Homo sapiens: one gene and its partners. The protein of the gene in region 1 purifies or fractionates together with the protein of each later gene. This does not show direct contact. Each region holds a gene or a part of one and is shown on either strand. Other genes may lie near its edges.

Region 1 (8,229 bases):
TTTATTCTAATGATCTTATGCTCAACTCTTTTTAAGTTGTCAAGCACATCCTTTTGTCTCTGTGTATATAACCTTTTCTCAAATATGCAGACTCTCCTGTTATTGAATAAAATTAGATAGTATCAAGAAAACTCAAATCTTTAAAGTATAATTTTCTACATATAAATTTTAACTTGGCATTCCAAGATACTCAAGTATACTAACTCACATCCACACAAAGTCCTGATCTTCCCATCTCAGCACCCAGTAGTACCAGAAAGACTTTAAACCACCAGGTAGATGTTCACTAATATCAAAATCAAATAGCTCCATTTAGCTATTTTACAGTATTTACACATACTGAAGATAAAAATTTTACCCTCCAAGGTCTCAGTGTAATTTTAGAACTCACATCAACTTTAGATTCAGCTAATACATGCCATTACATCATTGACCTTGTAGGACAGCTTCACTTGTAACAAAACTTTTTGACCAAATCCTGATACAGTTTCAATTTCCAACTCTGAAGTAAGAGAACATACTATCAAGATCGTTGCAATTTTGATTAGTATTTACCTGGACAGCACTAAGAGTGTATAAAAGATGAGGATCATGTCCGATACTAGCACTTATTCCACCACATTCATGTTGGCAAGACTTAATAAATGCCAGAATCTCTTCTCTATTCATGCGATGAAGTTGTCCCATGAGATCCATTACTGTCAGACCCCAATAGATGCCACTCATTCTCAAATACTCAGACATACAGTATTCCTAAAATAATACACAATTTCTTAAATCTGTCATTTGAACTGGTAACAAGTTATAAAGAGATTAAACACAAAGGTAACTCATTAGCCATGCTGCTATTTTTACCTCTCCTGACCTTAACAGCACTGATCAGTAGTGAGTTTAAAATCTGTGCTGCTCAATGTTAGAAGCCATCTTCAGACACAACTATTATCAGAAAAAAACAATTATCTGAGAAGCACAGGATTAGTTAATCTATGGCTGACAATACAAACAGTGCTTTAGTTTCTCCCATGAGCCAGAGACAGAAAAACATCTACCTTTTTCATCAGTGAAGTTCAGGGAGAGTATTTCTTTCCGAGTACCTATACCATATTTATCAGACATCTATTTTAATGTGGACTCTGTACAAAACCTATTATCTATTAGTAAATTATATAACTACATGAAAAATCAAAATGCCCTAAACATGCCAAAGATGTTTAAGCCCAGATAAAACAGTGGCTAATCAATGATACATGAAAATTAGTATTAGGATTCCAGAAACAAATTTTTCCCACACTCAACAATGCATTATATTTTAAGAAGTTTTGTGGCTGGGTGGTGGCTCCTGCCTGTAATCCCAGCACTTTGGAAAGCTGGGGCAGGCAGATCACTTGAGGTCAGGAGTTTGAGACCACTCTGGCCAACATAGCAAAACTCAGTCTCTACGAAAAATACAAAAACTAGCTGGGCATGGTGGAATGTGCCTGTAATCCCAGCTATTCAGGTGGCTCACTTAAACCCAGGAGATGGAGGCTGCAGTGAGCCCAGATCGCACCGCTGTCCTCCAGTCTGGGCAACAAAGTGAGGTTATAGCTCTCAAAAGGAAAAAAAGAAGTTTTTTTAACAGGTGGTGCATCTTAGTTTGCTACTAACCCAAATTCAGGGCATAAAGATAGATAGCAGATAAAGGCAGAAACGAGTCCAGCCCCATCCATATGGCCTTAACTCCATGATTGCTAATAGAGTATTTTCAAGGTTATGGGAACCTAACACTTAAGTAAAAAATTAATACATACCATATATCCCACAAATCGGTAGACTAAGACAACTGAGTTTGGATACTACAGGGAAAAACATTTACTCTTAACTAAGTTGTTTACTACTTTTTGCTAAGATTGTCCCAGAGTTTTCCTCGAAATTTAAAAATTTAAGGTAAAACTTTTTCAAGGTCTCAGAGTAATTCTAGAGCTAAAGTGTTATTACACATCAGCAATAGATTCAGATAATACATGCCAACACATCATTGACCTTGAAAGTATTACCCCTAACTACAAAAAGAGAAACCCGTTTTGTACCTCAAACCCTCATCTACTTTGTCTGGCAAGCCCTCTCAGTATAGGTAAAAACTGAGATTCTAATAAGCCCACAGCCTCAGACGTCCAAAGCACACTTAACTGAAGTTCAAAGGCACAGCACATCCTCAGTTCTCTGCATGGAGTTGGATGCCATTTTAAGACATAAATACTGTCTCACTGCTTATGACTGTCACACTTCTTTAAAATAAACTTTCCAACATAAAAAAATTATACATACATAATCATCTTTCTTTGAGCCATAGGATGCGATATAATCTGCATGTTTCTCCAATAACAAAGTGTCCGGTGCATCTGACTTGATAATAACATCCTTCTGTGGAGTGCCCTTTCAAAATAAAGTGGTAATCTCATCAATGTTTACCTCTACAACGTTCTTCTGCCCCACAGCATAGATTCAACATACATCTCAATTTTCACTTGATTTCATCTTGTAATAGGAAAACGTTCCATTTAAAAATTGTAACTAACTAGGGAGGCTGAGGTAGAAGATCGCTTGAGCCAGGGAAATTAAGGCTGCAGTGAACTGAGGTTGTGTCACTGCACTCCATCCTGGGCGACCGGAGACCGACTCAAAAACAAAACCAAAACAACAACAACAACAACAAATTGTATCCAACAAAAAAGAACTTAAATCATTCAGGCTTCGTCTTAGTCACGATTCAGGTAATTTTCAGGTCTCAGAGTAATTCTAGAGCTAAAGTAGTAATAATCAACTTTAGATTCAGAATACATGCCAACTCATCATTGACCCAAAAAATTACCACCAGCATTTCTTGTTGTTCACTTTTCATTCAAAAAGATAAGTAAAAAATAAACACCATAGAATATCAAAGCTTATCATTTCAGGACAACTTACGGTTTACATGTGGCAGAAAGCATATTTTTAAAAAATAAAAAAATCTAACCCTTAACTTGCAAGCGAATTCTTGCTTAATCAAATGCAGGTTTCAAAGCACCTTCTAAGTACCCCAAAAGTTGTTCAAATGTATTAAATAAGCAGTTCCTTTAGCTCCATCTTCTCCACCTTTAATCCGAGTCTCTGTATTTGCAGAAGTCCCCATGTGATGCGGCTCTAGTTCTTTTCGTATCTATATCTTCCTCATTGAGAGTACACTGCAGTCACTATAACAGGTCATGAAGATTACCGGAAGTGATTAAGTACCGAATTTTCTTCTGATCCCATTAAAAATCTTAAAGCGAGACCACATCACTAACGATTTTAAAGAAATCTTTGACACCCCCTCTCCAAGAAAAAAAAAAGCCACCAATCAGCCACAGCTTTTTAGAGGGGTTCAGAAATCGGGCTGCTCAACTCTTAACAGGCCCTCCCTACAGAAGAAGGCCTGGATAAAATTAGAAGCGGCATTGCCCGCGAGGTCTGCAGAAAACGCTGAGTAATATTTCACACTCAAAAAACCTTCCAAGGCCTGTGTCCTAACCATTCTCCAGCACCAGGAAACCAATCCTAAGGTGACCAGTGTGCTTAACCCTACTCCACCCTGTCTGCTACCAACCCATCCGGACAGCAGCGCTAAACTCACACTTACCATGTCTAACAGGGAAAGGAGAGAGCAGGGTCAGTTCCTGGGTAGACTTAGGAGCCGGGCGCCTGCGCAGATGCGCCTCTCAGGCCCCCATCGCGCTCCGATATAGCTGACCACACTTTCGCCTGCAAGGCAGAGCAGTTCCACGGCTGCCGTAGGACCCCACTGATCGCTCATAGGTGTCCTCACTGCCTGCGTCCAAAGTCCTGCGACCATATGCTTGTCCCATAGTCACTCCGATTTGTCTAGAAACAGTTTTAAATAATATTTAAATATCTGAGTTGCTTTTAAGAAATCATTTGTTCTAGCTGGACGCGGTGGCTTACGCCTGTAATCCCAGCACTTTGGGAAGCCGGACAGCAGGATTGCTTGATCCTAGGAGTGTAACCACCCAATATTGTGGTTCACTTTGCCTGCTGCTGACCGATAGCCCATTTATCAAGACAGGGGACTTGCAATGGAGTCTCCCCAAGCAGTATTCAGAGTTTTTAAAGATAATTCGGCGATTAGGGGCTTGGGAAGTAGGGAGTGCTGATGGGTCAGGTTGGAGATGGACTCATAGTGGGTAGACGTGAGTTTTTCTTGCTGTTTTCTGTTCCTGGGTAGGATGGCAGAACTGGTTGAGCCAAATTACCAATCTGGGTGGTTTCAACTGATCCATGGAGAGCAGGGTCTGCAAAATATCTCAAGAACTTATCTTAGGTTTTACAATAGTGATGTTATCCCCAGGAGCAATTTGGGGAGGTTCAGAAACTTGGAGCCAGAGGCTGCATGACCTCTAAACTGTAATTTCTAATCTTGTAGCTAATCTGTTGGTTCTGCAAAGGCAGACTGGTCCCCAGGCAAAAAAGCGGTCTTTTTGGGAAAGGGATATTATCAATTTTGTTTCAGAGTCAAACCATAAACTGAATTCCTCCCTAAATTGGTTCAGCCTAGGCTCAGGAATGAAGAAGGACAGCTTAAAAGTTAGAAGCGGCCGGTGGCTCACGCCTGTAATCCCAGCACTTTGGGAGGCCAAGGCGGGCGGATCACGAGGTCAGGGGATCGAGACCATCCTGGCTAAAACCCCGTCTCTACTACAAATACAAAAAATTAGCCGGGCGTGGGGGTGGGCGCCTGTAGTCCCATCTACTCCTGAGGTTGAGGCAGGAGAATGGCTTAAACCCGGGAGGCGGAGCTTGCAGTGAGCAGAGATCACGCCACTGCACTCCACCCTGGGCGACAGAGCGAGACTAGTCTCAAAAACAAAAGTTAGAAGCAAGATGGAATCCGTTAGGTCTGATTTCTTTCACTGCCATAATTTCCTCAGTTATAATTTTGCAAAGGCGGTTCCAGGAGATCCAGACCAGCCTGGGCAATGTTGCAAGACCCCCGTCTCTACAAATAATAAAAATATGAGCCAGACGTGGTTGCCCAAGCCTGTGGTTTCAGCTACTGGGGAAGCTGAGGTGAGAGAATTACTTGAGCTGTGGGGCAGGGGGTGGAGGCTACAGTGAGCGGTGATAATGCCACTGCACTGCAGGGTGTGAGACAGAACGAGACCATGTCTCAAAAAAATAAATCATTTGTTCTTGAGGCCCTTTGCACTCTGAAAATCTGAAATGGCTGTTAATTAGTAGAGTGCCTGCTTACACGTAGTAAGTGTTCAATGAATATTTTTTAAATGAATATTAATGAAATGTTCACATTTCCTTCCTGTTTGCCTTATCTATCTCAAGGTCCAGCCCTGTACCCGCCCCCTCTCCTCGCCACACACACAGGCCACCCTCCCCACCACCACCACCGCCACCACAAACACTTCTTCGGAGAGTGCTAATAGTAAAAATATTGGAAGTTACTTTTTTTAAAAAAATTATACTGTAAGTTCTAGGGTACATGTGTACAACGTGTAGGTTTGTTACATGGATATACATGTGCCAGGTTGGATTGCTGCACCCATTAACTCATCATTTAAATTAGGTATTTCTCCTAATGCTATCCTTCCCCCCTCCCCCAACACCATGACAGGCCCCTGTGTGTGATGTTCCCTGCCCTGTGTCCAGGTATTCTCATTCTTCAATTCCCACCTATGAGTGAGAATATGCGGTGTTTGGTTTTCTATCCTTGTGATACTTTGCTCAGAATAATGGTTTCCAGCTTCATCCATGACCCCACAAAGGACATGAACTCATCCTTTTTTATGGTTGCATAGTATTCCATGGTGTATATGTGCCACATTTTCTTAATCCACTCTATCGTTGATGACATTTGAGTTGGATCCAAGTCTTTGCTATTGTGAATAGTGCCCAATAAACATACGTGTGCATGTGTGTTTATAATCTTTGGGTATATACCCCGTAATGGGATCACTGGGTCAAATGCTATTTCTAGTTCTAGATCCTTGAGGAATCACAACACTGTCTTCCACAGTGGTTGAACTACTTTACACTCCCACCAACAATGTAAAAGTGTTCCTATTTCTCCACATCTTATCCAGCTTCTGTTGTTTCCTGACTTTGTTTTTCTTCCTTTTCTTCAACTTCTATTTTATTTTGATTTTTTTTATTATTATTTAAGTTTTACGGTACATGTGCACAACGTGCAGGTTTGTTACATATGTATACATGTGCCATGTTGGTGTGCTGCACCCATTAACTCGTCATTTAGCATTAGGTATATCACCTAATGCTATCCATCCCCCTTCCCCCGACCCCACAACCGTCCCCGGTGTGTGATGTTCCCCTTCGTGTGTCCCTGTGTTCTCATTGTTCAATTCCCACCTATGAGTGAGAACATGGGGTGTTTGGTTTTTTGTCCTTGCGATAGTTTGCTCAGAATGATGGTTTCCAGCTTCATCCATGTCCCTACAAAGGACATGAACTCATCCTTTCTTATGGCTGCATAGTATTCCATGGTGTATATGTGCCACATTTTCTTAATCCAGTCTATCATTGTTGGACATTTGGGTTGGTTCCAAGTCTTTGCTATTGTGAATAGTGCCGCAATAAACATACGTGTGCATGTGTCTTTATACCATCATGATTTATAATCCTTTGTGTATATACCTAGTAATAGGATGCCTGGGTCAAATGGTATTTCTAGTTCTAGATCCCTGAGGAATTGCCACACTGACTTCCACAATGGTTGAACTAGTTTACAGTCCCACCAACAGTAAAAGTGTTCCTATTTCTCCACATCCTCTCCAGCACCTGTTGTTTCCTGACTTTTTAATGATTGCCATTCTAACTGGTGTGAGATGGTATCTCGTTATGGTTTTGATTTGCATTTCTCTGATGGCCAGTGATGATGAGCATTTTTTCATGTGTTTTTTGGCTGCATAAATGTCTTCTTTTGAGAAGTGTCTGTTCATATCCTTTGCCCACTTTTTGATGGGGTTGTTTTTTTCTTGTAAATTTGTTTGAGTTCATTGTAGATTCTGGATATTAGCCCTTTGTCAGATGAGTAGGTTGCAAACATTTTGTCGAGTAGGTTGCAAAAATTTTGTCCCATTCTGTAGGTTGCCTGTTCACTGTGATGGTAGTTTCTTTTGCTGTGCAGAAGCTCTTGAGTTTAATTAGATCCCATTTGTCAATTTTGGCTTTTGCTGCCATTGCTTTTGGTGTTTTAGACATGAAGTCCTTGCCCATGCCTATGTCCTGAATAGTATTACCTAGGTTTTCTTCTAGGGTTTTTATGGTTTTAGGTCTAACATTTAAGTCTTTAATCCATCTTGAATTCATTTTTGTATAAGGTGTAAGGAAGGGATCCACTTTCAGCTTTCTACATATATCTAGCCAGTTTTCCTAGCACCATTTATTAAATAGGGAATCCTTTCCCCATTGCTTGTTTTTGTCAGGTTTGTCAAAGATCAGATAGTTGTAGATATGTGGCATTATTTCTGAGGGCTCTGTTCTGTTCCATTGGTCTATATTTCTGTTTTGGTACCAGTACCATGCTGTTTTGGTTACCGTAGCCTTGTAGTATAGTTTGAAGTCAGGTAGCATGATGCCTGCAGCTTTGTTCTTTTGGCTCAAGATTGACTTGGCAATGTGGGCTCTTTTTTGGTTCCATATGAACTTTAAAGTAGTTTTTTCCAGTTCTGTGAAGAAAGTCATTAGTAGCTTGATGGGGATGGCATTGAATCTATAAATTACCTTGGGCAGTATGGCCATTTTCATGATATTGATTCTTCCTACCCATGAGCATGGAATGTTCTTCCATTTGTTTGTATCCTCTTTTATTTCATTGAGCAGTGGTTTGTGGTTCTCCTTGAAGAGGTCCTTCACATCCCTTGTAAGTTGGATTCTAGGTATTTTATTCTCTTTGAAGCAATTGTGAATGGGAGTTCACTCATAAGTTGGCTCTCTGTTTGTCTGTTATTGGTGTTTAGGAATGCTTGTGATTTTTGCACATTGATTTTGTATCCTGAGACTTTGCTGAAGTTGCTTATCAGCTTAAGGAGATTTTGGGCTGAGACGATGGGGTTTTCTAAATATACAATCATGTCATCTGCAAACAGGGACAATTTGACTTCCTCTTTTCCTAATTGAATACCCTTTATGTCCTTCTCCTGCCTGATTGCCCTGGCCAGAACTTCCAACGCTATGTTAAATAGG
Region 2 (7,921 bases), about 39 Mb from region 1:
TAATAAAATCAATACTCTTTAAATACACAACCAGAAAGCCTGAATCATATTCCTGTTTACCCCCACCCCTTGTTAAGAAAAGAAAAACAACCCAAAGGAATTTGTATAATAATTTCTTTAGAGCACTTTATTTGATTCAATATGCATTAAAAAATATTGACCTCTTAGACAATTACGTGAAATAATTTTCTGAGTAGTCTACTCTCTGAACTGCTTAAATGAATTTTTAAAAAGGCAAATAAATGATTTGCCACAAATCTGCTGACTTCTGAAAAATATCTAACAGCAAATTCTTCTATTTTGGTCTCTGAATATTCTAATGTGTCCATACAAAAGTAGGACTAAAATCTTTAATCAAACAAAAGAGAAGCCTGTAACAGTGTAGAACACACATTTTGAATCTGAGCATCACAAATGAAGAAAAGAAAAATGAACCAGAGCCAAGTTGGTTTATCGGCCTCGGGTGCTGTAATTGGGGTGGTAAAGGTGGGTTTACTCCAGTAACCATTCAAGTGGGGATTGGCTCATTTTCAGGATTTACTTACAGGTCTCTTCTAAGTCCTTTAAGCCCCCAGTCCATGCAAATGTCCCACTTGGTGGACAGATGAGTAATCTAACCCCACCGGGTTTATTTCAATATTTCGATATTTCAATAATAAGCTGCTTCTGAAGATTTTTTGAGAAGTCTGTTCTCTATTAAAATAAGATAGAACCTCAAAATATGAATGTGAACATTAGAAATAGACAGCATATATTACAAATCCATTCTTGATAGGAACATTAGTAAGAATACACATTAGCTTAAAAAACAGGCTCAGCAAATGTTGCTGATCTGCCAAAAGTTTTAGTTCACTATTTACAAATAAGACAAAGTGAAATACAGAAAATTTTACACATTTGGTAGTTGACAGATACTGTTTGCCAATAGTGGTCTATCAGAAAACTGACATGAAGGAAGACTGGAAAAGAGCCAGTTGTCACCTTCTCAAATTTAAATGTACAGAAAACTAGATTAATTTTGAAACAAACATTCTGCCTTTCATGGGAATAACTGTATGATCACATGATTTGATTGGGAAGTACAATTGTGAGGAAGTGTTTTCTGGAAACAACTACTATAACTCTAAATAATCCACTAATGAAAAGTTACCATTTTTGTTTCAGTAGACCATTGAAGTTGATTAAATGATAACTAGTGGTAGTGTTTCCTAAACCCTAAGTATGAGTAGAAAATAAAACCATTGCTGAGTTCTTTATATCAATTTAAAAACTAAGACCCAACAGCATAAAAATGAGAAAAAACATAATGGCATGATTCAATGCAAATCTGCACTGACATTAAAGTAGAATCTGAGCTACTTGGGTTTTTAACTAGAAAACAACCTGATATGTATGTGTGTGAAGGGGGAGGGTTAAAAGTTGTTTTAATAACTGTGCGACCTAGTCCAAAAAGAAAATTTATCAAGTGACACGAGTCTCAAGTATTTACTCGTATACCAAGTATCCTGCACCAATCAATAGCACACAATCATCAATATTTGCCATTTCTAACAATCAGAGAATCATCTCCATTAGAACAGAAATCCTCAAATCATTTCACTTTTGCTTTTTGCTTTGAAACTTGCAAACAGACTTCTCTCCCCCTTTCTTGACAAGAATGTGTTTCTGTCCATTATTTCAATCTAATACTGTGTAAAAGCTATCAGCTTCTTCAAGGAGGTGCCCACTGTAGGCAGGATATTCCAGCAACACTTAAAAGTTTTCTGGGTTTTTTGTGTTTTTTTTTTTTTTTTCGTTTTTTTTTTTTTAAACAATTGATTTAAATCCATGTCATTTTACTTTATATGTACTGGTCTCTCATCTGACTTTAGGCGTTTTCTGCGGGGCTGTATAAAGTCTTCATCAGAGTCCTCAGTTACCTCACCATCATCCTCTTCCTGCTCAAACTCTGGCAAAGGTGCGAAGGTCCTGTCTGAGTAGATCTCTGTGAGTTTATCTTCAAAGTACAATGCAACTGCTTTCCCTGCCTGAGCTACTTCTGAATCAGCCTGCAAGCAAAAGATAGGAATATTCACCTATTGGTAATGCATATTCCTTCACCAAGTTTGCATGGTCTGAAAAGCTTACCTTCAAATTAATCTCTTGTGTGTCTGCATAAACTTGAACAACTTTCATCATCTAAAAAGGATACCAGAGTCAAAAAAAAAAAAGGGAAATTATAATCCTTTCTAAAGTTATGAGACTGCATAGGATTGGCGACGAAAAGTCAGCCATACTAGGGAGAACAAATTGCTATAACCAGATAAAGTGCTTTTCTAAAATTCTACAGAACATGGAACCATTTTCTTTACAAAGCCCTGTTACTAAAGCTACTGTGAAACCTCAGTAATTGTCTTATTTTGAATTATCAAGGTCAATCTGAATAGGAATTGGTCTGAACACATCAATCTATCCAAGAGAAAAATATTTGTGAAGCATATTATACAAGAAACGTTGCTTTAAAAAACTGACAAACTTTCAACAAACCACTTAATAAAAATTCTATCTGTATAGCAATATGTTAATCATAAACTATTTATTACTGAGGCAGGAAACATGGGTCTTCTTATCAACTATAGTTCATGAAAGCATATTTATTTGAAAATAATTTAACTGCACTGAAAAATAAGACAGAATTTGGGACTAAATATAACTTCAAACTAGTGAGATTTTACTAATATACTCTGTGCCATACTGCTATAAAGGTGACTTAGAATTTTCACCTTATGAGGATTTTGTTTTGTTTTTGATTTTAAAATGCCATCTGGATGCTTCCAGAGGCAGCTATAGGAATACGTTACAGGATCCAATGTGATTTATTTTAGTAATAATCATATGGCACCCAAATTACACCAGCAATAAAGAGACTTTAGTATTAATCTTTTAAAAGATTTTGTGGATTCTCATTAAATTCCATTTTCTTCTCCTACAATGAAACTCTTCCATAACAATAATAGAATCGATTTTATCCCTAATAAAAACAATTTCCCTGAAACAGGTATATAATACATTTCTTCTCAAGGCATGGCTAACTCAAACTTACCCTCAAAAAAAAAAAAAAAAACAAAACAAAACAAAACAAAAAACAAAAAACTCCCCAAACCAAAAAACATAACCAAAATTAATCAAAGTCACACTGCTGAAATAAGAAAACTTAGTATTATATACTCTGGGCTACTATTCAAGATGGGTCACCAGAGATTAGTTTGTTATTTTAAGGTTCTACATTCATGTTGTCAATAATAAAATGCAAGGACATGGGTACAGATAACTTTCCTAATAGTACCCAAAACGTAAGCTGTTTATAATCATATTCCACAAAATATACGTAACTACTGACAGTACTTTCCATACTTATGCCAATCCTCAACTCATTTAGAAAAGGATATTTGATAATATTCTTAATTTATTATATTTAAGTATATACTCCAAATTATACACAATAAATTTTCTTCACTGGAGCTGTTAATACAATCAGATGTTACTTTTGACAGGACTTTAGCAGAAAAAAAAATTTTAATAAAATTAAAGTCAGCAGAAAAATAAAACAAGGAAACAAACAAAAACTAACAAATCAAGACTCTATAGGTTGGAAGTTAACATACTTCATTAAACCTTTCACAGTTCTTGAAGATCAAACGGACATCGGCCACAAAGTCATCCGGGATTTGGTAGTGTTGGGAATGTTTTTTCTGAAGCTTCTTTTTCACGGTGGATAAATCCATTGGTTTCTTTATAATTTTATAGTAGTTTGGTATCTAAAATAAGCACATAATGGCAAATAAGAATTCTCCAAAAATGCCAAACTGTTTAATTTGAAAATGCATAGCATATTAATTTTAGGGAAAAAAATTATTATAGAGCCAGCTGCTTGCAAATTTTGAGTATAGACGTATGTACTTTACATCTTCATGAAAACCAAATCTTATGTGGCATATGTGCCAATCTTCATGGTTAGTCCAAGTCCCCAAAGTCCTACTTTTAATAATAAGATTTGGAAAGAAAGCAATTAGCAAGGGTAACCAACCAGTAGCCTTGAGGCAACATTTGACTTACCAGAATTTTATGACTCCTTAGGAGTTTTTCTTTTTTTTTTAAAGAAAAAAATTTACAAAATATATTAATGTTACAATTAGAATATGATGTCTTTTGGAAAACATAACAGGGAATATCATTTACATCACGAAGTCTTGACTTAGTAACAGAGGAAGTAAGACTAAGAACATAAGAAAAATTTACTAACTTTATTAACCATTTAGTGTTCACGCTAGGGAATTCTGACCCCAACTCTGGCGAAAAATTTCTACCCTTGGGATAAAAGTAAAGTTAGAGAAGCTATTTTATTGACTGATTGACTAATTGATTTTTGAGATGGAGTCTTGCTCTGTCGCCCAGGCTGGAGTGCAGTGGTGCAGTGGCGCCAACTGTGGCTCATTGCCACCTCCATCCCCTGGCAATTATCCTGCCTCAGCCTCCCTAGCAGTTGGGATTACAGGCATGCACTACCACGCCCGGCTAATTTTTATATTTTCAGTAGAGAGGGGGTTTCACCATGTTGGCCAGGCTGGTCTTGAACTCCTGAACTCAAGTGATCTGCCTGCCAGGCCTCCCAAAATGATGGGATTACAGGCATGAGCCACCATGCCCGGCCAAGAAGCTACTTTAATAGTCCATAAAAAGAAAACATTTGAAAGTCATTTTCTACTTTAAAATCCCTGCACTTAAAGATGAGACAAATTTTCCAGAAACAGATGATTACTGCTTGTACAAAACATCTTCCTTCTGTCTATACCTTTTGTGATTTAAAATTCATTTCTCAGGCTACCCAGTAAACAAGTCAACTACCATTTAATATTCTCTAACAGGCCTGGTATGTAATAATGTACTATTCAACAACTGATGGCTAGCAATAAAATGTGTGTAGAATATTCTTACCCCACTTATTAGGCACCAAACACCTCTAATCTTCCTTTTATTGCAGCATTTTAGAGCCTTTATTCCTTACAAAACTCAATGACTATAGACTATGCTAAATATTTTACATAGGTTATTTTATATAATCCTCAGAACAACCCAATGAGGTAAAAAATCGTGTCAGAAAACTTGAGTCTTAGAGAGGTTGAAGAGCTTATTCCAGAAGGCTGAGGTGTAATACAACTTAGTCTAAGGCCATACTCTTTTTTTTTTTTTTCTTTTTTTTTTTGAGACGGAGTCTCGCTCTGTCGCCCAGGCTGGAGTGCAGTGGCGCGATCTCGGCTCACTGCAAGCTCCGCCTCCCGGGTTCATGCCATTCTCCTGCCTCAGCCTCCGGAGTAGCTGGGACTACAGGTGCCCGCCACCGTGCCCGGCTAGTTTTTTGTATTTTTAGTAGACACGGGGTTTCACCGTGGTCTCTATTTCCTGACCTCGTGATCCGCCTGCCTCGGCCTCCCAAAGTGCTGGGATTACAGGCGTGAGCCACCGCGCCCGGCCGCCAGAGCCCATACTCTTAAGTATTATGAGACTTCCCCACCGAGCTACTAAGGTAGGCAACTCACCGAAGCAGGAACAGGCTCCTGGAATTCAATACTTAATTCATGGCAATAGAGGTAAAGCAGAAGACGTTCACATTTCTGGCCCAAACAAGGAAAGGAAAGCACATGAAATATTTTTCTCCTAATAAAACATTCTCGAGAATGAGAACTATATCACAACAAAGTTTGATTACAACAAACTGAACACAAGCCCCCTGTTTACTAGATACTCAACTAAACATAAACACCCAAAGAAAATTCCCTTGCTTCTCATTTTGTTTTCAGACTATCTTTTGTTCTACTTTAAGTAAGAATGGAAGATAACTAAGGTAATTTATGGAAGGGAGTCACAAAAGCAACATCTAACACTTTGTGCAAAAATTTATAAATTACTTGGTAATAAATAAATAAGTAAATAAATTATCACTGTTGCTCCTCATGGTAATTCCTTAGACAGGCAAGACAAATGTTGAAAGTTATCATCCCCTTTCTTCAAATGATTCCAGTCAGGTTCAAAATGAAAATGGCCTTCTCAGTCTAACTCCAAAAATATTTTTTTACCCAATCATGAGTAAACTGAAATGCATTTTACATTCACAGTCTTCTATTTATCTAAACTTCTTTTAATACAAGTTTGTATACCCTAAACACGTATCTTGTCTTCACAGATAGTGGATGAGGGTTTTTACCAGTATATACACCAGAGTAGAGCCAAACTTAACTCTAATGACCACACGACAATGCAAAAGAGTCTGTCTTTGGCAATCAGACTACAGGCCAGATTGGTAAAAATCTGAGTAAAGTAAGGAGAGAGTTTCCATTTTTAATATGATGAGAAGCTATTAGAGGATTTTAAGCAAGGAAATGATAGACTTGTTTACTTTTTTAAAAAGAACACTGTTTAATACAGAAAACAAACTATAAAGGTCAAGAGCAGAAGCGGGGAGAGCAGTTAAGAGATCACTACAATAGTCCAGATGAGAAATTATGATGTAAGGTAAGAAAATCATATTATAGTTATTATTATTTCATTTCTAATAGGTTTCTAACCTGAGCAACAGAAATGAATGGTGGTATCATTCAATTAAGGGGAATACTGGGGGAGGAATACAGTTTTTTATGTCGTTATTTGCTTGGTTTTGTGCTTGGAGGGAGAGGATTAGAAATTAAGATTTTAGTTGGGACATGTTAAGTTTGAGGAATCTGGATAGAAGGGTCTGTAGTTCAGGGTTAGAGGAAAAAAAGACTTCAGAAATCATCAATATACCATCAGATGACAGGATTAAAAATTAAATGTTATCAGGTTTTGTGTATGCTACACAGGAAAAAAAAAGGTGTATATATAGGCAGACAACTACTGAATCCCAGTGACAAATCAACTTATTTGACACTTACCCTTTGGTCCACGGGGCTTAACCCCTGCGCAGTTTTCCCCTTCTTACTATGTTGCAAATTATCACAATCATATTCAACTTCTGGCTTTCCAATATCTCTACAAAATGTGCATATCCAGTCCCCACTAGACAGGGAAATAGGCAATTAGTCCACGTAATTATAAGAAAGCCTGCTCTAGAGAAGCTACTTCCCTGGACTGGGGCCTGGTTTATTTTCTTAATAATTTTTTGAAAAAAGGGAGGTTTTATAGTTGTGAAATCTCGTCAGGTGAAGTCATGTGATTAAAAACTCCTCTAAATTTTCCTAGTCACGCATCAATTGATTACTTTCTGGAATGCATTATAAAAATGGCACCTCCGCATTAAAAGGGGGTCTCTTAGTAGTGATGAGCAGTACTTGCAGCATAAGGCCTAAGACCAATTCTCTCAGATCCCAGTATCACCATTATGTGGACTCAGTTATTTATGAAGAAGAAGAGCACAGGTTGCAGAGTTTCTCAGGTATCTTGTACTGTTTTGGCATGTATTAAAATGCCACAAGTAAATCAGTTCTTTTTTCGTGGTCAAAACCTAGAACACACAAACACATACCTGCAGGCACAAGCACATGTATATATACCTCCTTTTTTTTGGAGACAGAATCTCCCCCTTGCCCAGGCTGGAGGGCAGTGGCATAATCTTGGTTCACTGCAACCTCCGCCTCTCGGGTTCAAGCGATTCTTGTACCTCAGCCTCCCTAGGAGCTGGGATTACAGGCGTGCACCATCATGACCGGCAGATTTTTCTATTTTTTTTGAGACACAGTTTCACTGGGTCCTCCAGGCTGGAGTACACAGTGGCACGATCCTGGCTCACTCCAACCTCTGCCTCCCGGGTTCAAGCAATTCTCATGCCTCAGCCTCCTACGTAGCTGGGATCACAGGGGCCTGCTACCATGCCCAGCTAATTTTTGTAATATTTGTATGGGGTTTCACC
Region 3 (7,921 bases), on another chromosome or scaffold:
GTGGCTTAAATGATATTAGTTGATAGTGATGACTTTTATACAAAGACAAAACTTTTCTCAATTTGATTATTAAAAAGCTATGCCAGCATGTTACTATATATAACTAGCCATAAAGACTGTTAAAATTATCTTCACCCCATGCATATTTGGTATTCATAAAGAGGTCTACTGTCATTATTAACTTTTTTAAAAAGAGAAGTGTTAACAAATACTAATATGCTGATTGCTTTTTATGTCACATATTAATATTTAAAATATGTGTACTAAAAATCATCACAATTCCTCATGAGTCAAAAAATTTACCGCCACCATTTATAGCCAATATATTTAGGTCTCTAGGGGAAGGCAAAAACACAAAGCACTCAAGGTCTATGCTATAAGTTCTATAACGTAGTGTTAGAGCACTTAAAACACAGAGGAGAAAGCAATGGGAAAAACAGAAATGTTATACTATACTAGGTATATAATTCATCTCAATATAGTAAGACAATTGAGCCTAATTCCTAAGAAGTCACGTGGCAGTATACAGATAAAAGGCTGGGTTTCATTCCTATTTCTGTGATTCTTGGTGAAACTTTATTATTAATATTTTAGGTTCACTATGTAAAGAAACACTTTACGTTCGTTATCTCACGAGTTACTACATCATACTCATATTACAAATGAGGAAATTAAAATGCAAGGAATGTCAACTTGCTCCTAATTACATAACTAATAAGTGCTGGATCTCAGCTTTAATGAGATTAACATTCGCTGTCTTCATGGATGAGAAGATAAGTATATACAATAAAATACTCCATTCGAGAATTATAATACATACAGTATTCATAATGTTCATTGGAAACCTAAAGATGAATTAATTTAGGACCAGGGGCAGTGGCTCAGGCCTGTAATCCCAGTGCTTTGGGCAGTTGAGGTAGTCGGAACACTTGAGGCCAGGAGTTTGAGACCAGCCTGGGCAAAATAACAAGATCCCATCTCTAGAAAAAATTTTTAAAGAATTACTTGGATGCGGTGGTGCCTGCTCTGTAGTCCTAGCTATTCAGATGGCTGAGGCAGAAGGGTTGCTTGAGCCCAGGAGTTAGAGGCTGCAGTAAGCTCTGATGGCGCCGCTGCACTCCAGCCTGGGCAACAGAACAAGACCCTGTCTCTTAAAATACTCTAAGATTTCATTTACAGAGAGAGAGCTGTAAAGATACTTAGTAGAGAAAATACTAATATGCATTGAATTATTAATATAGTATTTCCACATTTGAATTATTAATTTCTAAGGGTCAGGAAAGCATGAGAACACTCCTAAATGTTTTAAATAAAGGTTTTTCAATGTTTCTCTTGGGTAACTTTACTAAGTGATTTTAAGATATTTATAGTTTTACTGTCTTACAGGGAGAGGTGAATCAGTGTTATCCTGGATAGATGCAGCAGACCTCTATTTTGAGTTTTCTGAACCTCCTCAGCAACTGTTCTTGAAATAGATAATCCCGCACTCATGTATTCAAGTCTGAATACTACCACAACCTCCCTTTCTCTGTTCTAAGTTTTCACAAGGCAAAAGTTATCTTGAATTACTAGAATGAACAACATTACATGAGAAATACATTCTCATATTTCTAATATGCACAACAGAGATAAATGCTTTCTCAAAAGATATGCTATATCTTTTTGTTCAGTGACTAAATGCTATCTTTCTCTGAATTACAGGTAGTATTTACTAACTCACATTGGGAAGTACTTCATTTTCGTAATCTTACACAGCATTGCTGGGAACCAGAAAAGCAGGAGAGAGAAGATGAAATATTAAACAGATAGTTACATTTAGTTTTCTTAGAGTAAAAATGTCCTAGGATAGCAGTTTCCAAGCTATGTGTGATAAAATCAATTTGGTGGGTCATGAAAAGCACTTAAAAACAACGAAATAAAATAGAAAAAAATAAATAGAAAAAGTAATACAAGCAACATAGCAAGTTTACTGTCTTATGAAATGTTGATTTCGGCTAGATGTATTTATTCCTATGTGTGCACTAAGTCACAATATAAAATGTACTTCTTACTGAGGGCCCTGGTTAAGAAAATGTGAAATCCCCTGCTGAGTGGATCTATAAAAATAGAGATAGTTATTAATTTTTTCCAATATTTGGCTTTTTGACAGATAACAATTTAAAAATAAAAATTATAAGTCACCTTATTTCTCCCTAAATATAAATTTTGGTATGTTTTAAAATCTTAAATGTATTAGAGAAATAAAAAACAAAAACAAATCCCCATCTATACAATTATGCCAGAGAAAGAATTTAATACATACCATGACAAAATCTTAGCTAGATTATGTATTAGAATCTTCAAATATTGTTTTTAGTTATTTTGATTACTTTAAATTTTACTAATATATTTATGCTTTATTTAACATACTTGACTGAAATGCAGATGTCCACAATTACAGCATTACTATTATTGATATTACTCTACTAAAAGGCTGAGTTTGATCTGGTAAAGCAGAAAGGATGTTTAAGAAATTAAACTTCTCTCTGTCAGGCTGAGAATAATTTTTAATGATATGAACCACAAGTGTCAAAGTAACAAATGAAATGGCAATATATAATATATGGCATATTTCTGCACACCATTAAAATTTCAAGATAAATTTCCTACATAAACACAATATCTATACATTTCCTTTAGTAACTATTCAGTCACCATCAGTTTTACCTTGTTTGAAAGTCTGCTCGTATTCAAACTCTTATTACTCCAAAAAAACTTAGAGTACTTAAAACTCTTTTTACAACATAGGCCTGAAAAATATAAGTGTGTAAAAAAACAGTAGGTAAGAATAGATGGAGAGAAACAGAAAACAGGGAAAAATCAAAACAGAAGCAAAGAAAACCCCAGAGTAAGGCATACATGCTCCCCTAGGCAGTAAGGTTCTAAAGACAATGACTAAAAGAGAACTGAAAAGAAAAAAATACCCCTGAAAAAAAATTCCCTTAAGTACAGTGTACTTGGTTTTATGTAAAGATCCTTGCTTAAAAATATGTACATATACATGCATAATATATGCACCTTATTGTGCCATATGTAATTTCCCAGAACTTCACACACAGAAATTAAATCACTCAAGTATATTGCTACTGAAACTTTAGCAAATAGATTCCAACTTTGTTGGCTCTTCCTGTTGGCTGTGAAATCCAGTGATTTTTCTTAGTTCCTCTACCTCTTCCTTAATGTTTAATAATTTAAATTATTTTTGCCCTCCATTAAAAAATAAGTATTAGTATAATTATTCCTTATTGTAGATTTTATTGATACAATTATCAAATCTTAACTAGACAAAATTGTGGGTCACAGGCTGCTGATTCTTTAAGGTTCATATTAAACTTGACCCCTTCCCTCATCACCCCGGCCAGACAAAAGTGCTCTCACAGAATGTTAGAGAGGAAGAGACATCATCTCCTCCAACTCCAAATTGAGCTTTAAAAATTACAATCCTGGAGTGGCAAAAAGAAAACTATATACTGTAACCTGTAATTTTACAATGCAGCCAAAACAAAAGTTTCCTTTTCAGGAAAAACTTCTGGGCCACATAAAGTGATTCACTGTATGAAGTTCAGTTATGCAAGATAAGTAAGTCCCAGACATCTGTATGGTAATAGTACTTCTAGTTAACAATACTGTATTGTATAAACATTTGCTAAGAAGACAGAACTTATGTTGTGTTCTTACTACAAAAAAAATGAATGAATGAATGAATGAATGGATAGATAAATAAAGCAGGGGGAAACTTTTGGAGGTGATGGATAGTTTTACAGCATTGATTGTGGTGATTTCACAAGTGTATGCTTATCTCTAAACTCACTGAGTTGTACACATTAAATATGTCTGGCTTTTTGTACATCAATCATACCTCAATAAAGTGGTTTTTAAAGAAAAAAAGATCATGAAAAACACTGAGCTCTTCGAGTCATTTTCAAAACAAATTTCAATTTTTTGACCATTTAAATCCCTCTCATGAAAGATGAAGTGAGCACTCATAACTATTTCCCTCCTCTCATCCTGACTTACTAGTTATATTGTTTGTTTCATATTGTCAGTCTTTTTAACTTTAATATTCTGTTTGGCAGCCATAATTCTCACAATTCTTTTATCTTAGTTTTGTATTTAAGTGGATAGAGGTTTCACCATCAGTCCTTATCTTCATACCCAAATTCTTTGTTTGGATTTATGTCTGACTTTCAGGATTTAGTCATCAATTCTTCATGTTATATATATTTATTATTAAAAATTTTTCCTACTAATTCACCAGTACCAAAACAAAACAAAAAAAAAGTGACCCACAGCTATTAGGCTCTGTACCTGGGAGGTCCAGCTTTGAATTAAGTTTTGGTACTGGGGAAGCAGGTATTTTTAGAGGGAAAAACGGTAGCAGAGCTCCAGAAGTTTCACTTACTTGGGACAGACATCTTTTGATGTATACTCTCGTTTCGGCTCTCCAGCACCAAACTGTCATGGGCCAAAGATCTATGTGTAACAATTGGTAATATGCTTCTGTTTTAGAGTAGGCTTTAATAGCTACTTATGGTAAGGGGGAAAGTGTAAACAATCAGCCAGCTCACTTGAAAGTGACCACTTAAGTGATATAGAAAATTAATAATAATCTTAAAAAAAAACAACTTACTCACCTTGGGTAGTGCTAGTCAACTATCTTTTTCCCAATCTTAAAACACCCCACGCCTTCTCGCCTACTGCAATATAGGAAGTCTCCACTGTGTATCTTACAACTCTCGAGTTCTATCCTTGGCTATATTCATTCATTCCTCATTTCTATTGTTAGCCATATCCATTCATTTCTGTCTCTATACTCTACCCAGTAGGTTTCATCTACTCTCCCAATCTGAACTACGCAGATGATCCTGAGTCTTCATATTCATACATAACCTGACCTTTCAGGCTTTATTCAAATGTTCTAATTACTTATTAGGCTGGCTATCTGGATAATTACCATCTCCAAAACTGAAAATAATCTCCCCCAGCTATTCCTCCATAATCCTATTTGTTCATTTCAAAATGTCAAGGTTACTTCTGACCTTTTCCTCTTCCTCTACCACTGAGTTTGATTACTTCATTCTTTACAACATTCCTTGCATCCTTTCTCTCCTGTTACTACAGACACCATGCTAATTCAGGATTTTCACACTTCACGTAAAAACTGGATTATCACAACATTTATGACTATTCTTCCTGTTATGAAACAGAGTAGTCTATTACCACTAAGACATCTACCATATCACTACATATTGCTATACCTATGACAATTGTGATTATGGTCCTTGACTACATGATCAACTCCTAAGTCTTTAACCTTCAGTAATTTAGCTTTAAAAATTTTCACCTTACCTCCCCTCACACTTCTATATACATTCCCCATTTGGCCAGTCTGCTCTATTTAACATCCAAAAAACATATTCTATGCATTTCCTGTGCCATTTCCTCCATCTGGAATACATCATGTTTCTGATTCTTTGAGGTTCGTATTAAACACTGCCCCAACTGGAAGTGTTCTCACAGAAAGTTCGAGCTGAAGGAAGATCATCTCCATCTGCAAAATGAACTTTAAAAGATCATCTCCTCCATCTATGAAATCAAAATGTTTAGGGAAACTGAGGCCAAACAACAATACAAATACTTTTCTTTCTGAACATTCATTTTTTCAACATTTTTTCTTGTTTCCTATGTGCTAGTAGGAGCTGTGTCACCTACGTGGGCTTGGAGTTTTGTGAGAAAGGCTGGCTACCCATAAATTATCACACAAATAATTAAATTTGGATGAGTGCTTCAAAGAAAAGGGAAAGGACAGGGTATGTGTGATTGAGCAAAGAGGTGAGGCATAAAGTTTAGTAAGGGAAGACAGGAAAGGGGTTACTTTGGTTTGAGAGGACATCTTCCCTCAGTGGGGAAAAATCTTTTAACTCATCTATGCCTAGTGTTCCATTATTGGAACACTAAGCTTGTGGGAGTTATTTATATCCTACTGTTCAAGGTCATTGCTAAGGTCTGATATTTCACAAAAAACATTTGCAACCTCCGGTATAAATGGGTTAAGCAGGGGTGAGGGTGAAAGACGGAGTAGGAATTAACTCTGCAAAAAGGTAGATTTCCACAGGCCAAAGGAGAGCCCAGAGAAAGGTACTTTCAAGGACTTAAGGTCTGGGTGCTAGAATAAAAGGATGGGTGCAAGAGGTGAGGCTGCACAGGCAGGGAGGGATAAGAGCAAGCTGGACTGTGAAAGGTCATGTTGAAGATTTCTGGACTTTTTCCTAACAGCAAAGAGGCCTTGTATATCATGTTCCAAGAACTTCATGTCAGGACCATGGCTGATCCTGGCATGGGTAACAATGAAAAAAGCAATTACAAAATCAGAAAAAAATTCTAGTTTTATTTCAACTGAAAAACATTTCCTATATCCCTGTTACTCTTCTTTGTGTGTGTCATCTCACCCAAAATCAAGTTAAGAAAAGAAAGCATATGAATTTACAAATATAGCCATTTTCAGTTGGTCCACTTGGCTTTGACAAGAGGTCATGTATGTATACGGAGGTATGTACACTTACAGACACTTAAGGGAGTATGGGTCAGTTTCACATTTCTTAAAAGTGAAACATTTCAAGTAATAGCAATCCTTGAAAATGACTGCTATTATTTGAAATGAAAATGAAAAATGAAAAGCTCCATTCGTTGTTTGGCTATGCATTAGTGCTATGCATTATTGCTATACTGTACTTGAAGTTAAATGTTCATTCTCATGCCCTTTTCCATCAGATCCTTCATAAGGGGAAATAATTTCAAGAGAATACCAACACAATTCTTCCAAGGATTATTTTAACCTCATTGCTTTTTAGTCTCATCTTGAATATACTAAGTAATGAATTCCAAAATGCAATTACAAATTTATTTCTTCTAAAATTACATTTATATCAAGGGTAACATTTAAGGAAGATAAATGACAAAGTTATTAAAGTAAGAATGACAGCTAGAATTTTTTGAGCAATTTCTGTGTACTGGTATTGTTTTGGGAATGTTAAAATACATTATCTCATTTAATTCTAACAAGGACTCTGGAAGGTGCATGCTAATCTCTATTTCACAGATAAGGAAACTGAAGCTTAGAGAAATAAGCAAGCATTTCCCCAAATCATATACACCTTAGACCTCTGTTGTCCAATATGGCAGCCTGTGGCCACATACGGCTACTGAGCACTTGAAATGTGACTTGTTTGAATTGAGATGTGGTAGGTCAAACACATACCAAACTTTGAAGACACAGTATAAAGAAGTAAAGTACCTTATTAATAATTTTTGAATACTGACATGTCAAAATGATTCTATTTTAAATATGGTGGGTTAAATAAAATACATTAAAATTAATTCCATATATTTATGTTATTTTTAAAAAATCAGCTACTAGGAATGTTAAAATTACATATGTGGCTCACGTTATATCTCTATTGAAAAGTGCTGACCTAGACCTAAAGCTGAATACTGAATTTGACAGTAGATATCAAATACTGAAAGACTGGTAAAGAAGAGGCCACCTGCATTCACATGTCCTCTCCATCAATGATGGGAAGCCAGACGCTGGGGTTAGGATGAGGTGTAAAATACCTTACTACTACCATATTACAAAGACACACAAGTGAGGGTCCAAGAGGTTCTTATGTATACAACGGTTGAATTCTGGTGAAGAGAATTTATGAACTCTACTTCAGCTGATCAATGATCTTTTTATATCAAGAACTGAGACTAGTGAGTAAAATGATACTGGGCATGCAGAATTTTACTCTATGTTTTTCCTCTGGGTCATAGTGAAAATAAACAAATTGCTCCAATATGCTGAGTTTAGACTAACCTATTATTATAACTGAGAAAAGTA
Region 4 (7,921 bases), about 44 Mb from region 1:
TTACTTCCTCCCAGAAACAGTATTAGACTTCAGAGTGAGAAAGAACTTCACTATCAAATCTCTTTTCCTATTCATAAATTAATTTTGGGATGGGGCACAGAAACAAAGACCAGTGGACATAAATTTGAGTCTCGGTCTAACTGGCGTTTTCTGAACTACACCATTAAAAAAAAAAAAAAAGAAAATATTGTAATCCTTCAAATAGGTTTCCTTCCTTGGTTGATCAGAAATGTCCTCATTCCCCAGGTCTCTTCATGCTAAATATGGTAATAGCTGGCAGACAGCCAGCCCAGTAAATTCCAATGATACTTAAGAAAGCATTCATATGGCCTGAAATTACTCTGAACCAAACACTTGAGACCTGCAGGGCTTCAGCATAGAGCAGTTCAGCTGGAGCAACGAATGTCAAAACCAGCGGGGTGCCTTAAAAACACAAAAGCTTGGAAAAAAAGCAATCTACTCTTCTTTATTGCTACATTCTTTAGCAACAACATTGATCTCCTACCCACTGTGCACACAGCACTGCACTAGGGCAGTGAGAGGCTGGACAGAGGAATGGAAGAAACAGGTGGTGTCCATGGGTTGCCAAAACAACAGGTTGCTTCAGTCAGTTCTGTCCTACAACTAATCAATTTGGTGAGGAAAGGGGGAGAGAATCTTAGTCATCTTGTTCTCTGACCAAGCTAACTGGCTAGACCCACTGTACTGGCATTTATCCATTAGGTCAAAGTGTCAGAATTAGCAGTGCATGGTAGACATAGCATTAGTCCTGCCTTTCAGGGATGTTAAATGCTTCAAAAATCTTGGCTATCTAGAAAAGGAGGACAGTAGCCGATTACGTCACCCACCCAAAATCATGTATTTGACTCCAGAATACACTGCTTTTCTCCAACATATTTTTTTATTAAGTATTAAAGTAAATGTCAATTTCCTAGACATATACAGCTGAAAGCATGCTGATTTACGATACAGTCAGATAAGAACTTTCAAGTAGCTACAGAAAATAGCAGTTAACAAATGAATTAACCAATATCATTAGAAACCAAAGGATTAAAAAAATTAACCTATGAAATGAACAATTTTTATATCAACATTGGTAGCAATTTGATGTTATGTTATATACTGCTAATTATTTCCATACATATTGTGACATATTTAAGACAAAAGACTAACACCCTTAATATTTAAAGAGCTTTTTCAAACCAGTAAGAAAATAATTAAATGAGTAAAAGACACAATTTACCAAAAGAAGTAGAAAAAAAGGCAATACAAACGCCACTGATGATATGAAAAAACATTCAATATCACTGTAATGAGAGAGGCATATTAAGATTAAGTAATATTTACCACTTATCAAATGGTAAAGATTTTTAAAAATAAAACCTAGTGTTGACAATAGTATATTATGTGTGTGTGCATATATATATATGTAGATCTGTTCATAAACTAAATATATATATATATATATATAAAAATAAATCAACAGCTTTTCTAAATCTAAGGGTAAAAAAACCAAAGACGTATACCAAAAAATTAATGGCAGCATGATTGTGGACATTTTATTTATGCTTTTCTAGATTCTTCAAACATCCTTAACTACTTTTTCAAACATAATTACTTTTTATTTTACAAAAATAAAAAAATCTTGTAAAGGTGCCAGAGAAAATCAGCAAAGTATAAATACGAGTTAATTATCTGTAAACATAACGAATAATTCTGTTGCTACGTAAACCTACCTTAAACTGTTTCAATGTTTGTTTTTAGTTACAACTATTTTCCTTAACTCTCTTAGAAAGAATATGTCAGAGAAGCCACTACATATTACTTACTTTAAATAGTAACATAATGCCAAAGACTTGCATGAATCTCAGGATACGGTCTTTTACCTAAAATTCCTCATGAAGATTAGAATGCACTTTAAATGTTGTAATAAAGTAAATGCCCTTAATGTTTCTAACTAAAGAAGATCTAGCAAATAAATAAACCCATATTCACAGCAAATAAAAATATAATAAAATAATCGAAATACACATGTCCTCAAACTTCAATGTGTCTTGACAGCGTCTGAACCAAAGCATGTGTAAGGAGAGAATTAAACAAAAATGTCTTTGCTACTTACCACATTTACCATTTAGAGAAGTTGATATATCAGCACTATCTAGTTTTGTGATTATTCATACTTAGAAACTCAACAGAACAGATTAGTGAGTAAACAGTATTCAATTATTCTTATTTGAATGTTGGTTAGGTATACCAATAGAACAACCTCTCCCTGCTAGGTACCCGTTAAAATAGATTATTGAAAATATTTGAAGCTTAAAAACTTACAGAATCTTCTCACAAAAAAAAAGATGAAAATAAAAAGAGATGAAAAAGAAGCAAACAACAATTTTAAAACGTGCCTGCCTCAGAACAAGGCAGTTTATTTTAGAATGTAACCACAGCTTCTTGTACAACACCTTATTCATCAAGCACAACTGTATTTTAAAGGAATGCTATTTGTTAAAAAGACAACATATTTAGGATAAGGTATCTAACTCCAACCACAATATTATCATCATGTTTTCCTTACTTCACAAAATACACACATACATTCATCATATGAATAAACATATATAATAAGGGTGAGAGAGCTACTCTTAACCCAGAAACAGGTTCTGCAACACCCATAGATCCAACCTGTCTTTATGCAACAATGAGTCCATCTTGGCAAGATGTTTGGCTGATGTATTCAAATAACCCAGAGTTCTGCCAGCTGCCAGTATCCTGCAGAAGGAACTGACTCGGAGACCAGAAACTGCCCTAGGCAAGCCTCCAGGGAAAGGTGCTTCAGTCCAATGGGAAGAAAAACCCAGCCCCTCACTGCCTGGCCAGAGGACCCGGGGTACCATGGCTGGAGCGACGTAGCTGGCTGGAAATGCGAGAGGGGCAAGGGACACTAAGGTGAACCCCCAAGAGCTTGTTCAATCATACCTAGTAAAGGCCAAACTATTGGGGAGCTAGTAGAACAGGGTTTTGCCAAGACAAGTACAAAAGGGTGAGGGAGATATTAGTATGATTAATCAATGCCACCTGAGGCAGCAACTCTGGGTGTGTCCACACCACACTTCAGTCACTGCCTGGCTGTGACGAGAAGTTCCTTCAGCCACTGCCACTGAGAACTGCATCTTCCAAGGAAGATATCTCCACCATAACTTGTCCTAGTTCAGGCTTGGCATTCGGGACTAAGAACACAGCACTCTCTCTTGCCGCAAACCCACTAACAGACATAATAGACACCACAACATGTGCCAAATTTATATTTACACCCTCACCAGACAAAGGGGTTTTTGTCTTTTCCCCAAGCCAAGTTCTAATACTTCTAAATTACAACACAGAAAGAGGAAAATGGCAGACAGCTCACGACAGCAGACAAGCCCAGCAAGGGTGAGCTGGAGGTCGCCTTTCCCTGGTGGTATTAAGACCTGAAGTTTACTCCCAAGACCCTATAGCTCCGAGTCACCCTGACTGCAGGAAACTGCTTTCAGAGAGCATAGATAAATGATAAAATAACTGTATTTCATATTCCTAATTGTGTGCTTATCTGTCTTGTCTCCATGATGATGTCAGCTCCTTGGGAGCAGGACCATATTTTCTACTTGGTCAATGATTCCCACACATCTAGAAGAGGAGAATACCCTGTACTTGCTACCACATGATGCCAAGGGAAGCACACAAATTAAGTGTGACAACACACCACAATGCTCCCCCAATACACCACTAAGACAGCAGAGCTACAAAGATAGCAAATGTTAGTGCCAAGGGCTAGTGATCCTACCAGTGAATTACATGGAAACCTATGTATTTACATACACAAGTTAATACAATAATTCCTTTGCTTTTCTTATTCCAAGCTATGGCTTTATCATCCCCCTTTCTTGGCTTTACTCTCCTTTTTAAGACCACAACGTATGTTCTGCCATACAGATAATATTCTCCTCAAAAAAGAGAGACAGGAGAAAAAACAGATCTACGGCAAACCTCCTACCACTACCAGTGATGCAGTTTGTCCCGTCTCAAGCCTATGAGCATATCCTTTCAGATCTGAAGCCACTTCCTTCTTCCTATCAAGGACAGTATTATCAAGTGTCTTTGTGAGAGGAGCAATCCTGTGCCCCTTCTTGCAGATTGTTTTGTTCTGCTCAAGAAGCCCTAGATTCCTCCTTTATTTTCCTTTCCTTATTTCATTTGCTGCAGCAGCCCAGAAACCCCAAAAGCAGGACTGCCAGAAATGAGTGACCTTTATATCTCTCCACACTAACACATCTGAGGGAAACTGCCGACACCAAATATGTGTTCATGAGCTAATGAAGCAGAAATCCTCAAAGGAAGCACCATTTGCAACGGCTGAGGACAGAATTCTTTAGTGGACACCAAAAAGGCTGTGGAACTCCTATGCATTCTAACATCTCAGGTAACATTCTAATGGAGGAATAAGGAGGCTTACAACAAAGTCATACAACACAAACAGAAGTCTGAAAATGCTGGATTTCGCAAATTTCTTTTAAGACAAAACAACTTTACTAACCTTATACCATAGCAGCTTTCTTCTCTGTACTAAGTGAGGCCAGCAAGTAGGAGGCATTTCCAAGGGGGAAAAATGACCACAGGATCTAGCCAAAGCAACCTGTCTCTAATACTCTCAAAAAACAAACAAACAAAAACACTTTGATTTCCCAGATTCACTCTGCAGTGATTCTAAAACTTTCCTAATGTAAGAATCACCTGGCTATTTCTTGAACACACAAATTCCCAGATGACACTCCAGATGCACTGAATCAGAATCTCCATGAGAACACCTGAGCTATTCTTATCATAAGAGAGGTTAGGGAAACACTGCTTGATAAATGTTATTCTCCCACCAGTGCCCACCTGTGCAGGGAGGTATGAAACAAGTAGGGCTAAGATGCTTTACCTGAGCAATCACCTCAGACATGCTCCTCACTGGGTTTGACTCCTTTTATGGAGAGCTGGGTGTCAGCTCAGTAAAGTCTACAGACAAGCATCTCTTTGGGTCCCTATCACCTGCACAGGTCTCAGGACTCTGAGACAAATTTCTGAGTAGATGTCAATGAGGACAAGTCATGAGGAGACGGATTACAGCTGAATATAAGAAGATCTTTCTAAGAATTAGAGCTGGCCAAAGATGGAATAAACTGCTGTGGAGAGCTGTCTACCACAAGAGATGTTCAAGAAGAGAGAAAATATGGTACCTCTTGACTAGAATGTTGTAAACATCAGATCCAGCATGGGATGGACAGAAAGACTAGATGAATTTTAAAGTTCCCGCCAATGCATAAGTCAACAAAGAGGAAAATTTCAGCCACTCCTTAATTAATTAAAAGAGATAGCAAAAAAAGTCTGTGGGTGGGGTCAGCTTTCAACTGATCCTATCTCTTCAAAGGAAAAAAGAACATAGAAACACACTCCAACTCACCATCAGCCTCTCCTATAGAATGTTCTAAAGGTGGGAAAGCAGGAGTCATAGATGCTGTGACTAAGACCTGCTGCTCAGTTGACTCTGAATTTGGGGCACATGCCAGACAAGTTCTGTAGTACAGAGAAGAAATGTGTGTAGCACAGACCTGGCCCTCAAGGATCAAAATCATGTGGCAGAGACAACTCAACACCATGTGATTCTCTCAAATATTTATTCATCATATTTCATCTTTAGTTTTTGTCAGTAGGGTGTTCAGGGGACTCTCTTGGTTCAAAAAAAAAAAAAAGCAAATATACTTTACTAAATGTACATATTCTCTCAATCCAGTACAAGTTTGCAATATCCAACTCAATGAAAAAAATCTCAAAAAAAATTATCAAAATAAATATAAACTTAGTTAACTCTAATTTTAAAAATAGTATTCCAAAAATGACTAGTCCCCAAAATGATGAAATTACAATAAGGTGTGGCTATTCTGGACAAAATAACAGAAATTGCTGGCCTAGTAATACAGTAATACAGGAAGCAGTGGAAGCAAACTTGAGTGAGAGGCAGGGGGTGGATGGCAGTGCCTTTGAAGTGAGATTCCAAAGTCAAAGTGACCTTTATAAATTGCAGAAGTGATCAGAAAAAGAAAGAAAGAAACCCCACACACAAAGAAATTCAAAATTACAAGTTAAAATGAAACATCTGGGGAAGGGAAAAATTTGGTTTTTCCCCAAATGTAAGGTAAGCATGACTCCTGCAAATACTGTTTTTAAAATGTCTAGGAGTACCACAGTTGTCCAAAATAAGAAAATGGCTAAAAATAATTGTTCGACTGAACAAGTATTTATTGTGTGCCTATTAGATACCAAGGCATCATGCCAGGTACAGGGGTAGGGTATGGGCATTAGAATAAACACATAAATGAAAATACACGATTCCTTCCTCATGTACGCATTAACAATAAGCACTTGAGGATGTTATAAGAGTTTTTGTGCACATAAGCGCATTTGTACACGAGATGGAAGCAATGAGGACAGTGAATGAGGCACTGGACACCAGAAGAAAGGAATTCTAGTCTCAACTCTAATTGGCTCTGTGACCATGAACAATGAACATCAGAAAATGGAGGACGGAAACAGTGGCTCTCCTACAAGGTCACCAAACCAATTAATAACAGACCTGGAGAAGAATTCTGGTCTTCTGGCTCCTAGTTCAGTGATCTGTCCAAAATACTACACATACGGTAGGCTGACAAAGAAAGAAAAGAAGACCTTTTGGTTTCAAGTCATTTGCAGAGAAAGGGGGAGAAACAAAAACAGGAAAATCAGGAAAGGGTGGAAGGAAAATCAATAGTTCAAATTTAGGCATTCGAACTGAGACATCAAGAAAGGAAGCATGTAACTATGGACTGTGAACACAATATAAAGAAAATGATGTAAAATTTCTTATATCCTTATTCAAATCACGCCTTGCAGTTTTTTACTCTAAAATCATTGCAGACGTATATAGATAAAGGGTCAAAAAACAACATGTATGAATGACATTTAAGGAAAAAGAGATAACAGAAGAAAAGGGAAAAGGAGAGGTGGAGAATTTATTATATCATCTAAATATATGAAGCCCTTCTAAAGGGTCAATGCAGACATATTGCACCCAGATAAATAGAAGAAATGACATTATATTCTATATCTCTTACGTTAGCAATTTTTAAATTCCTTGAGTCAGAAGCGTTAAACACTGGAATGACTAAGGTTACATTTGTTATGGAAATTTCTTAAATTTAGAAAGACCTCATACACACACCTGAAGGTAAAAAAAAATGTACTTAATCAGTGGGTTGCAACCAAGTTACTTGTCAGAATCACCTGTAAACCTTGAAAAAATATGGATTCTCAAACTTACCTTATCAGAATCCCTGGGTGCTGAGTCCAAGATCCACCCCAACAGATTTTGATGTAGCCAGGACACAGAGTTTTTTCTACCATAATGGGAGAGGTAGGGAGGAGGATCACTAGGAATGGCAACACAGAGTGGGAACTAGATCAATGCAAATTTTGTGGGCAAAATAGAATTTCTGTGGGTGTGATATTTTTAAGATGTATTGTAAGGCTGCTCTGAACCATCCAAGCATATCCCACTGAATTTAAACATTCTCTAAAGGTCCTGAAGTCAGCAACTACAATCCAGGTGAACCAAAAGTTGCTCCTCTATGTCATAGAAGCCTACAGGAGAGGCAGTAGGGTGGGAATGGAGCAGAGAGATCCCAAGAAGTTATGGGTAAATATTTTTTAAATCTAAACATTCAGAAAAATAAGAGAGACTAGGAATCACTCTCCTCCTCCTCTCCACCACACCAAAAAAAAAGGAATAATAAGAAAGTGAAAGGAAAAATAGTTTTAGGTTAAATTTCATCACCATCTGAAAGAAAATTACTCCGATTTTGTTTAAGCAAGA

What was found.
Region 2: the proteins of RABGGTB (region 1) and TRIM33 purify together in Homo sapiens (affinity purification with mass spectrometry; 4 studies listed by BioGRID and IntAct, with this or other methods). This does not show direct contact.
Region 3: the proteins of RABGGTB (region 1) and RAP2A purify together in Homo sapiens (affinity purification with mass spectrometry; 4 studies listed by BioGRID and IntAct, with this or other methods). This does not show direct contact.
Region 4: the proteins of RABGGTB (region 1) and NOTCH2 purify together in Homo sapiens (affinity purification with mass spectrometry; 4 studies listed by BioGRID and IntAct, with this or other methods). This does not show direct contact.

Annotation. Positions count from the first base shown.
Region 1 is NC_000001.11:75,781,683-75,789,911, reverse strand, and holds the start of RABGGTB (geranylgeranyl transferase type-2 subunit beta), read right to left. Parts: upstream 3,657-8,229; 5' UTR 3,641-3,656; coding exon 3,638-3,640; intron 2,841-3,637; exon of another isoform or gene 2,763-2,840; intron 2,416-2,762; coding exon 2,308-2,415; intron 2,024-2,307; exon of another isoform or gene 1,940-2,023; intron 754-1,939; coding exon 556-753; intron 436-555; exon of another isoform or gene 365-435; intron 1-364. UniProt on the Homo sapiens protein: Catalyzes the transfer of a geranylgeranyl moiety from geranylgeranyl diphosphate to both cysteines of Rab proteins with the C-terminal sequence -XXCC, -XCXC and -CCXX, such as RAB1A, RAB3A, RAB5A and RAB7A.
Region 2 is NC_000001.11:114,395,813-114,403,733, forward strand, and holds part of TRIM33 (E3 ubiquitin-protein ligase TRIM33), read right to left. Parts: intron 7,072-7,921; coding exon 6,948-7,071; intron 5,652-6,947; coding exon 5,577-5,651; intron 3,798-5,576; coding exon 3,645-3,797; intron 2,179-3,644; coding exon 2,128-2,178; intron 2,049-2,127; coding exon 1,836-2,048; 3' UTR 1-1,835. UniProt on the Homo sapiens protein: Acts as an E3 ubiquitin-protein ligase. Promotes SMAD4 ubiquitination, nuclear exclusion and degradation via the ubiquitin proteasome pathway. According to PubMed:16751102, does not promote a decrease in the level of endogenous SMAD4.
Region 3 is NC_000013.11:97,436,636-97,444,556, reverse strand, and holds part of RAP2A (ras-related protein Rap-2a), read right to left. Parts: intron 1-7,921. UniProt on the Homo sapiens protein: Small GTP-binding protein which cycles between a GDP-bound inactive and a GTP-bound active form. In its active form interacts with and regulates several effectors including MAP4K4, MINK1 and TNIK.
Region 4 is NC_000001.11:120,059,001-120,066,921, forward strand, and holds part of NOTCH2 (neurogenic locus notch homolog protein 2 isoform 1 preproprotein), read right to left. Parts: intron 1-7,921. UniProt on the Homo sapiens protein: Functions as a receptor for membrane-bound ligands Jagged-1 (JAG1), Jagged-2 (JAG2) and Delta-1 (DLL1) to regulate cell-fate determination.